Homo sapiens: one gene and its partner. The protein of the gene in region 2 interacts with the protein of the main gene of each other region in a biochemical or structural test. Each region holds a gene or a part of one and is shown on either strand. Other genes may lie near its edges.

Evidence for each region.
Region 1: the proteins of HCK (region 2) and RASA3 form a complex in vitro, tested with the Homo sapiens proteins (one study listed by BioGRID).

What each region holds. Positions count from the first base shown.
Region 1 is NC_000013.11:114,013,813-114,018,489, forward strand, and holds part of RASA3 (ras GTPase-activating protein 3), read right to left. Parts: intron 4,441-4,677; coding exon 4,292-4,440; intron 3,540-4,291; coding exon 3,425-3,539; intron 2,460-3,424; coding exon 2,385-2,459; intron 1,521-2,384; coding exon 1,397-1,520; intron 1-1,396.
Region 2 is NC_000020.11:32,082,787-32,087,463, reverse strand, and holds part of HCK (tyrosine-protein kinase HCK), read right to left. Parts: intron 3,571-4,677; coding exon 3,421-3,570; intron 3,074-3,420; coding exon 2,921-3,073; intron 837-2,920; coding exon 657-836; intron 1-656. UniProt on the Homo sapiens protein: Non-receptor tyrosine-protein kinase found in hematopoietic cells that transmits signals from cell surface receptors and plays an important role in the regulation of innate immune responses, including neutrophil, monocyte, macrophage and mast cell functions, phagocytosis, cell survival and proliferation, cell adhesion and migration.

The sequences.
Region 1 (4,677 bases), on a different chromosome or scaffold from region 2:
CCCGTCTCTTTCTCTCCGTCTGTCTCTCTCTCCATCTCTCTGTCTCTCTCCCTGTCTCTCTCCCTATCTCTGTCTCTCTCTTTTTCTCTCTTTCTCTGTCTCTCTCTCTCCGTCTCTCTCTCCCTGTCTCTATCTCTCTGTCTCTCTCTCTCTCTCTCCGTCTCGATCTCTCTCTCCATCTCTCTCCGTCTGTCTCTGTCTCTCTCCATCTCTCTCTCTCCGTCTCTATCTCTCTCTCCGTCTGTCTCTGCCTCTCTCTCCGTCTGTCTCTGCCTCTCTCTCCGTCTCTCCCTGTCTCTCTCTCTCTCTCCTTGTCTCTCTCTGTCTCTCTCCTTCTGTCTCTGCCTCTCTCTCCATCTCTCCCTGTTTCTCTCCATCTCTCATCACCACCACACAGCGCAGCCCCTTTGGTGTCTCATTCCACAGTGGTCTGTGCTCATCTGGGTGAGAGGATGTGTTTTATCTCTTCACTTCCACCTTGTTCAAAGTGGGTCTGGGGCTGGGATGTGCTTGGGAACTGCCTCCCCCAGAACCCTGGGCCCCTCGGCCGGCGCTGTCTGACTGTCTGATGTCCTGAGAATCAGGGGTGGGGACAGCGTTTGTCTCCTGGGGACACAGAAGCGTGGACGGCTCTGCAGGACCATGGCCACCCCGGGGTGTCTGCAGCTGTCCCGAGGCCACAGGACACGCAAGGAAGAGAGGAGCCGGCAGCAAGGCCCTCGCTGAGCCTCTCAGCGCCCCATACATAGCCTGAGTCCTGGCGGGGTCTTGAGTATCGCAGGTGATGGGTGGGTGCAGGCACCCAGCTCCTCCCTGAGGGTCGGCAAGGTTGAGAAGTGGGGTTTGGGTGCTGGATGCCCAGGTCCCTAGGGGATCTCCGGCTTGGGGGTTTGAAGAAAGGGCAGCTCCCCCAGGGGTCCTGTCTCTTCGAAGACACGGGCAGGCAGAGCCCCCAACACCACTCTGGGCCCTGCCAGGGTCGGCCACAAAAAGAAACCACTGGGAAAACCCAGGGGTCCACATCAGGAAAATTCACATTCCACCCCGACAAAGCCTGGCCACCCTTCCCGGCCCCCCCAGAGACCACTGTGGTCGTGAACTCCAGGGCTGGGCCCCTCTAGAGACCACTGCGGTGGTGATCTCCAGGGCTGGGGTCCCCTGGAGACTACTGTGGAGGTGAACTCCAGGGCTGGGGTCCCCCAGAGACCACTGCGGTTGTGAACTAGGGAACACTGGCCCGGGCACAAACCCCGGAAAAATCCAGCATCGGAACTGGGGTTCACGACCCCGCAGTTCTAGTCTAGCCAGGGCTGCGGGGGGTTCTGCCTGGGTGGGAGTCACCCTGCACAGCGCTATGGCAGTTTCTCAGCAACATGAGGGTGTTCAGGGCACTCACCCTGGAAGCGCTTGGCCGCCGCCTCCCGGAGGGAGAAGAAGATGTCACACATGACGGTCGGGCAGCTCACCCCAGACTCAGTGATGGCGTGGAAGACGCGGTCCACATACTGCCGTAGGTTCTCCTGCAACGGGACACGGCACTGGGACCCACTCCCGAGGCTGCCCACAGGTGCGTGTAGCACCAGGGCACGCCCAGGGAGGGGCGCGTGGGGAGGGGCTGAGGGCGGGCGCAGGGCAGCTGCGGCAGTGAGACACGTGTGAACAGCCACTCCCTGGAAATCTGTGCTGGGAGCTGTGGCAATTCACGCGTGAAAATCACTACACAGGCACCACGTCGGCTCCCCGGCTCGGCCCCGACCTCGTTTACTGAGTGGGGAATGGACGTTCACTAGAATGTGCCTGCCCAAGGCAAAGAGCTCTGTCATTTACATACAGAAATGACGAAACAGCACGCTCTGCAAGAAGTATCATGTGAAGTGACTAAAATGTTGGAGCAAGTTCAACATCAGGGAGTTTTGCTGTTTTAAAACGCAGTACACAGCTCTGGGGACAGCCTGGGGAGGCAGGGAGGCCATCCTGTCCTAGGAAAAGGGAGGGGCAGGAGCCATTGCCCAAGGGAAGGAGGAGCCGGGGCGGAGGCAGAGCTGGTCAGGATTGTCCAGGGGAGGCAGAGCAGGGTGTGCAGGGCAGACCCTCCGGGGGGGCAGAGCTGGGGCATGCAGACCGGATCACTCCAGGGGAGGAAGAGCTGGCCGGGACCCCCCAGGGGACGCAGAGCCCGGCACACAGGCCAGGCCAAAGGTGGTGGCTGAGGCCTCCCAGTAGTGCAGCCAGCGTACTGCAGCCGGGTGAGGCGGGTATCCCCACGCCTGGTCCTGCTCCCACCCCAACCGGGGTCACGGGGTGAGTCAGAGCTTCCAGGCAGCCATCGGCTGAAAAACCCCAAGCAGGTGACTGGCTTTGGTTGGTTCATGAACAAAACCTACCATGTTGTTTTCAAGGTTTTCTCCGTCTTTCAACTTCACAGGGTCGATTTCACAGGGTTTGTGGCTCTGGCATATCTGGGGAGAGGTTTAAGACAGGGCTCTGTGAGTGGGTTCTGGGGGCACAGGCAGGGAGGGTGGAAGGGGTCTCAGGCCTGGCTGAGATGTAGACCCTGAGCCTCATCCAGAAAATGCCACGACAGCTCCCCGAACCCGGCCACTGGCACGGAGGGGCACGGTGAGGCCGGACTGCAGGGCCACCGTGGGGTGGTGTCGTCCCGAGCCTCAGCTGCAAGGGGGCAACCCTGGGCCTGTGTCACTGGCTGCGGAGGGACAAGTGAGAGGTCAGGCGCAAACACTAGGCACGGGGCCCAGTCCATGGCCGCGATCAGACGAGCCGGGCTCTCTCAGGGAGCGATGTGCGCCCGCGATCAGACGAATCGGGCTTTCTCAGGAGTGATGTGCACCAGCCCACACGGACTAGGCCTCACAGGGCTTTAATAATATTTTTACTTCAAAATGCTGCCATGATTTTGCCCACAGAGCAAACCAGAATGCTATGTTCAATTTTCTCACATTTGCAAAGAACCTGTTTACAAACCCGCTCATAAACGGGGGGCACAGCCTGGCGGGCATCAGAGGGTCAGGTGAGGAGTGGGTGTGCGGGCATCAGAGGGTCGGGTGAGGACTGGGCGTGCAGCTCAAACATGCCACGCAGCCAGGGCCCAAACACAGGGGACTGCAGGACATGTGGAGAAAGAAGGTCTCCCTGGGAAGAGCCAGGCTTTTCTTGCATGTTCTCCTTTGTGGAGTGGTGGATTTTCTTATGTATAGTTTTAATTTGGGAGAATTTGGAAGGTTCTGGAGTACACAGGGAACATCCTCTTGATAAAAGTGAATGAATCAGCATCCCCGTGGCGAGGCCAGAGGGGCCGACATTCAAGCCCAGCTCGTGGTCTGGCTGGATCCCAGTGCAGTGCCCTCTGTTGGGGGAAATCCTCCCCACGCCTCGTGAGGCTGAGGACTCTCGGCCCCGTGCTCACCTCCTCGATGGCGGGCTTCAGGGTGACATGCAGGTAATGCATCCCCGCCAGCTTCATGGTCTCGTCGATGCACTTGGACGCCAGTGAGTTTCCTCGGAAGATGGTGTTGGGGTCCCTGGGAAATGGCGATGGGGACAGCGTTTGTCTCCTGGGGACGCGGAAGTGCAGACGGAGCAGAGCCTGGCCCCGAGCACCTGCCTGTGGGCTGTGAGGTCAGTGCACGCCCATCAGTCGGCTTCCTGACATTTTACAAGGAGCACAACCAGGCCAGGTGCTTGGAGGCCCTGGCCATGGAACCGTCCTGTGTCAACACTGCCAGAGGGAACCGTTCGGCTACCTGCGTGGCCACCAGCTCAGGAGGAGCCTGGCTGGCCTTCGCCCTCCCGCCCTCTCCCCTCTGCGGCCTCTGCCTGTGCAGAGAGTTGGGCACCAGACCCTGGCAGCATCCAAGGGCCAGCAGAGAAGCAAACCCTCCTGTCAGCTACAGTGGCTGCAGGTGCAGCCAGATGTTTCTAGAACAGGGCGTCCGGAAACAGCACTAGGCAGGTCCTGAGGGAAGCTGTGCTCCATTTTTGTGGGCTCCCAAAGTGCCCCAGGGAGGGGACCTGAGCTGTCCTCGAGCCCCAGGAGCCGTTTCCCCTCCCCACTCACTCACTCTACCCGGGATTTCAAAGGCAAATGGGACTTTCAAAAAAAAAAAAAAGAATCATTAACTGGGTCTGTGAAAGAAAACCTGAATCAACATGGTTTCTGGGGACCCTTGAATTCCCTCAAGCCCTGCCCCAGGACACGTGGTTCTCGGCGACGACCTTGCCATCCCTGTAGCGGGTCCAGGCCGCTCTCCCCCGGGGCAGGGTGGGCACTCACTGGGTCCGCTTCACCTCCGCGCTGGCGATGGCACTGATGAATGGCACCACCCTGCCATAGTGTAGGAAGAGCCGCACCAGCGGGACGGCCGCCTCCTGCTTCTCCCGGCAAACCTCGCCCAGGATGTGGGCCGCAGACGCTGACACGGGCTGCGGGGAGGGGTGAGGTCAGTGCCAGGGCCCGGGGTGCAGGAACCCCAGAGGCCTGTCCCCACCTTGGCTGGGGTCTCACTTCCAGCCACAATAGATACGGCTCTTTGCTGAGACAGAAACACACACATTCACAAAAACACCAAACTTCCCATTTGCTGCTGCTTGGCTGGACCCTTGGAGGGGCATCTGCACCTCCTTCTAGCGACCCCCCCATGCAGCCAGCTCTAGGGCCCC
Region 2 (4,677 bases):
ATAAATAAAATTAGCTGAGTGTGGTGGCATGGGCCTGTGGTCCCAGCCACTCGGGGGGCTGGGGTGGGAGGATCACTTGAGCCCAGGAGTTATGATTGCACCTCTGCACTCCAGCCTGAGTAACAGAGCAAGTTCCTGTCCCTAAAAAACAAACAAACAAAAAATGGCAGGGGTTGAAAATGGTTGTGAAACAGTGGCCTAAAAAAATTCCCCAAGAAATCCTGAGTTGTGGCAGGGCGGGGGTGGGGGCAGAACTGCTGCTTTGCCAGCTCCCTCTCCCAGGGCTTTGGCAAGTACAGGGAAGGTGGCTGATGCGGGAGAGTGGCACCCCCACCACCCATGCCACACCCTGGCCTCTAAGGCTCACTGTGAACCATAAGCCCCTTCTCCCATTGCCCAGGAGTATTCTGGCCCCATTCCCTTCTCCTGGTAGCCCCTTGTTCTCCCTTCCCCTTGGTGACCCCTTAACATGATTTCACCCCACTAACCAGGAGGGCTGGATTGTTCCACATTAGATTCTCAATGAGTACTTGTTGGAAGAGCTCCTGGCCAGATTGGGGCCATCTCAAGGGCAAGAACCATGTCCAAGCCACCCTTGGGCCCGCAATTGACCAGTATAGGCCACAGCCTGCACCCCCAGCCCCAGCACGCAGCACCTTTGGCCATGAACTCCGTGATGATGTAGATGGGCTCCTTGGTGACCACCGCATGAAGTTTGACCAGCTTGTCATGCTGCAGAGTTTTCATCACGTTGGCCTCTGCCAGGAAGGCCTCCACCGACATGCTCCCTGGCTTCATCGTCTTCACTGCCACCTTGGTGTGCTTGTTGTAGGTGGCTGGAGGGGGATAGAGAGCAGGGAAGGTGGTCAGAGCCCACTGGTCTCCCGTACCACCCTAGAAGGCCCAGCTGCAGACCCGCCTCCTCCAGAAAGTCTTTCCTGCTCATCTCAACTCTCAGAGAGGGAAGCGAAATCATGGGCTTAGGCCTCAGACAACTGTGGGTTGAAAGGCGGGTTCACCACTTCCCAGCTGTGCACACTAGGGCAAGTGGCTTAACGTCTCTGAGCCGTGGCTTCCTCAGCTTCCTCATCTGTAAAGTGGAAATGGTAAGCTTTGCCTTTGAAGTGCTGTTGCAAGGATTTAAAAATAGCTCTAAGTGGCTCACGCCTGTAATCTCAGCACTTTGGGGGGCCGAGGTGGGCGGATCACAAGGTCAGGAGATCGAGACCATCCTGGCTAACACGGTGAAACCCCGTCTCTACTAAAAATACAAAAAATTAGCCAGGCGCAGTTGTGGGCGCCTGTAGTCCCAGCTACTGGGGAGGCTGAGGCAGGAGAATGGTGTGAACCCAGGAGACGGAGCTTGCAGTGAGCCAAGATTGAGCCACTGCACTCCAGCCTGGGTGACAGAGCGAGACTCTGTCTCAAACAAACAAACAAACAAAAAACCCAAACAAATAAAAATAGCTTTAAAACACTACTCAGGTTATGTCACACACATACACCGCCCACTTTAATCTTAACACTGCTCTTAAATAAATGCCAGACTTACTATGACCCCCAGGCCCTACATGACCCAGCCTCGTCCACCCCTCTAGCCTCATCAGCCACTAAACTCCCCTTGCCTTTTATGTGCCAGTCACCCTGCAGGTCACTCAGTCCCTCAAGCACCCAACTCACCTCCCACCACAGGGATTTGGCACATGCTGTTCCCTCCCCTCACCCCACCCTGCTTCATTTGGTGGGTCTTGTCAATTTTATAATTGCTTGGGTTTCCATTTTGCCTTGGCTTCCAGGAAGCTCCAATCCAGAACCGTGGGCTTCCTGTAGTAGGAGTCTAGCGTCTTATATGATATTTTTGGCTTTCAAATCTCACCACTCAGATCTGTCTTACCTTCCTCTCCATATTTTCTTTTTTGTCAAATTCTTTTTAATTTTATTATTATTTTTTAGACAGAGTCTCACTCTGTCTCCCAGGCTGGAGTGCAGTGGTGCGATCTCGGTTCCCTGCAACTTCCACCTCCTGGGTTCAAACGATTCTCCTGCCTTAGCCTCCCGAGTAGGTGGGATTACAGGCTCCCACCACCACGCCTGGCTAATTGTTGTATTTTTTCGTAGAGACGGGATTTCACTATACTATCCAGGTTTTTCTCGAACTGCTGACCTTGATTGATCCACTTGCCTCGGCCTCCCAAAGTGCTGGGATTACAGGCGTGAGCCACTGTGCCCGGCCTTGCATGCAGCAGAATCGCAATAAATACAGTCGAAATACATGGATTTTAAACTTATTTTATCTGGCTGAGTTGTTTGCATCCCTGTAAGTTGTCTTCGCTCCCATTTGGAACGCTCCCATTTGGAACGTATTAACACAGCAGGCTGCCCCACACTGGGCTGGCACTGCATCTACCCCACAGCCCTGCAAAGCAGGCAGTGTTGTTCTTAAGTTCTTGGGGAAAATCAGCAGGTGTGAGATGTGCCTTTCTGATTTTCCCACAAGACCCTAACAGTGCTGGGCACACAGCAGGTGCTCAGAATAACCTGTTCATCAGTTGCCTGGAAATCTCCAAGCTGCATTTCCCCATTCTTAATTTTCATCATCTGAAAAGGTCTCTGGTTATCTCAATCCCAAACTGTTAGGCAGTCCCCACTCCGTATGAGGGAGGGATTCCTCATCCATGACACCTGCTTCCCAGAAGGAAGTTTTTGACCACTACAGGACTGGTCTCAAAGGCAAATCAGTGTTTGCACAGCAAGACAATTTGGTTTGCTATCAGGGAACTGCTTCTTTATGGCTATTATTTAAATCTCCCCCTCTGCCTTGGGTAGCATTCCCGCTTTGCCATAAGGTGTTCCTGGAAGCAAGTGGCCTCCCTCTCCCCTCCACCCTCTGGCCCTGTGGGCTGTGGCCCTGGGTCCTTACCCATCCAGACTTCCCCAAACTGCCCAGCTCCAAGTTTCTTCTCCAGCTTGAGGGATTCCCGAGGGATCTCCCAGGCATCTTTCTCCCAAGGCTTCTGGGGCTTGGAAGACATGCAGGGCACCGACAGTTTCTGGCAGAGCCCGTCGTTCCCCTCTGGAACAGAGTCCCTGGTCAATTGAGAGCAACAAGCACCGAGCCAGCCAGAGGTTGCTCCTTGGAGGCCGCCCTACCTGGTCCACTGGATCTCTCCAGTGTTCCACCTGGTTGCCACCATCAGAGACATTCCCAAGCAAGCAGAGTGTGACGGGGTGCCACCTCTACATCTTGGCCACCTCACCCTCCTGCTCAACAGTCCTAAGCCTTCAGAAGCATCCAAAGCAACTATCTGTCTAGGGGATGGCCAAGAAGGACACAGCAGGTCTCAGGGGCCACAGTGCATCCGTGACTAGGAGTCTGTGGGCCCATCGTGGTGGGGATGTCACCCCTGGGGTGGGACTCACTCTTGTAGTGGTCCACCAGCTCCTGCAGAGTGCTGAAGGTGCTTCGGGGGGATATGTAGAAGCCCCCGTTGTCCAGGGTCCGGATCTTGTAATGTTTCACGGTATCTCCCTGCCGAGGGTCGTAGTCTCGCACGGACAAAGAGTAGCTTCCTGAATTGACCAAAGAGAAACCCCTCAGAATGGCATCTTGGAGGCCTGCCACCTTGCATTAGCACTCTGACACCCTGTAAGGCTACCGCTGGCACCGTCCTGACACCTGGGCAGAAGTGCCCGAGGGTCTGAGTGGGCTGTGGGAGCCAGGCATCCTGGGCTCTCATCCAGGCTCTACCACATCCACCCGTGAGACCTTGGCCATGTGACTATGTCACCTCTCTATGCCTCAGTTTTCTCATCTGTAAAATGGGAATAGTTCTCACGCCTCCCTACCTGATCCTATTGCCTGACGGCTAAAAGAAGTAATGCCTGTAAACTACTTGGAAGCTGAACACTCTGCAAATGTTGGCTATCATCATCATCATCTTCATTATTTCTGATCTATTGTTCCATCTTTCTATCATCTACCCTACAAAAAGCCAAGAGACCATAGTATACTTTTTACTTTTTCATAAAAACTCAGGCTATGACTTTTCTGGAAAAAAACCCAGAAATCCAGTCCAGTTATTGAAATGTGAACATGCTGTGGTAGGCTGAATAGTGGTCCCTCAAGATAGTCATGCCCTAAACCCTGGAACCTGGGAATATGTTACCTTACATGGTAAAAGGTACTTTAGAGATGTGATTAAGTTAAGGATCTGGAGACGGGGAGATTATTCCAGATGATCCAGGTAGCCCCAGTGTAATCCCTTGAGTTCTTGTTAGAAGGAGGTAGGAAGGTCAAAGTGGAAGAGGTGAAGATGGAAACAAGAGCTTGGACAGATGTCAGGAAGGGACTATGAGCCAAGGAATGCTGTAGCCTCTGGAAACTAAAAAAGGCAAGAAAATGAATTCTCCCCTGAAGCCTCCAGAAGGAACCAGCCCTGCTGACATCTTGAGCCCAGTGAGGTCAGACTACTGATCCCCAGAACTGTTAGAGAATAGACGGGTGTTGTTTTAAGCCACTAAGTTTGTATTAATTTGTTACAGCAGCAATGGGAACCTAACATACATATTAGGCTGGTGCAAAAGTAATTGCAGTTTTTGCCTTCAAAAGTAGTGGAAAAAACTGAAATTACTTTTGCACCACCCTATATTATCACATAGAGCAGAAACACATAAGTC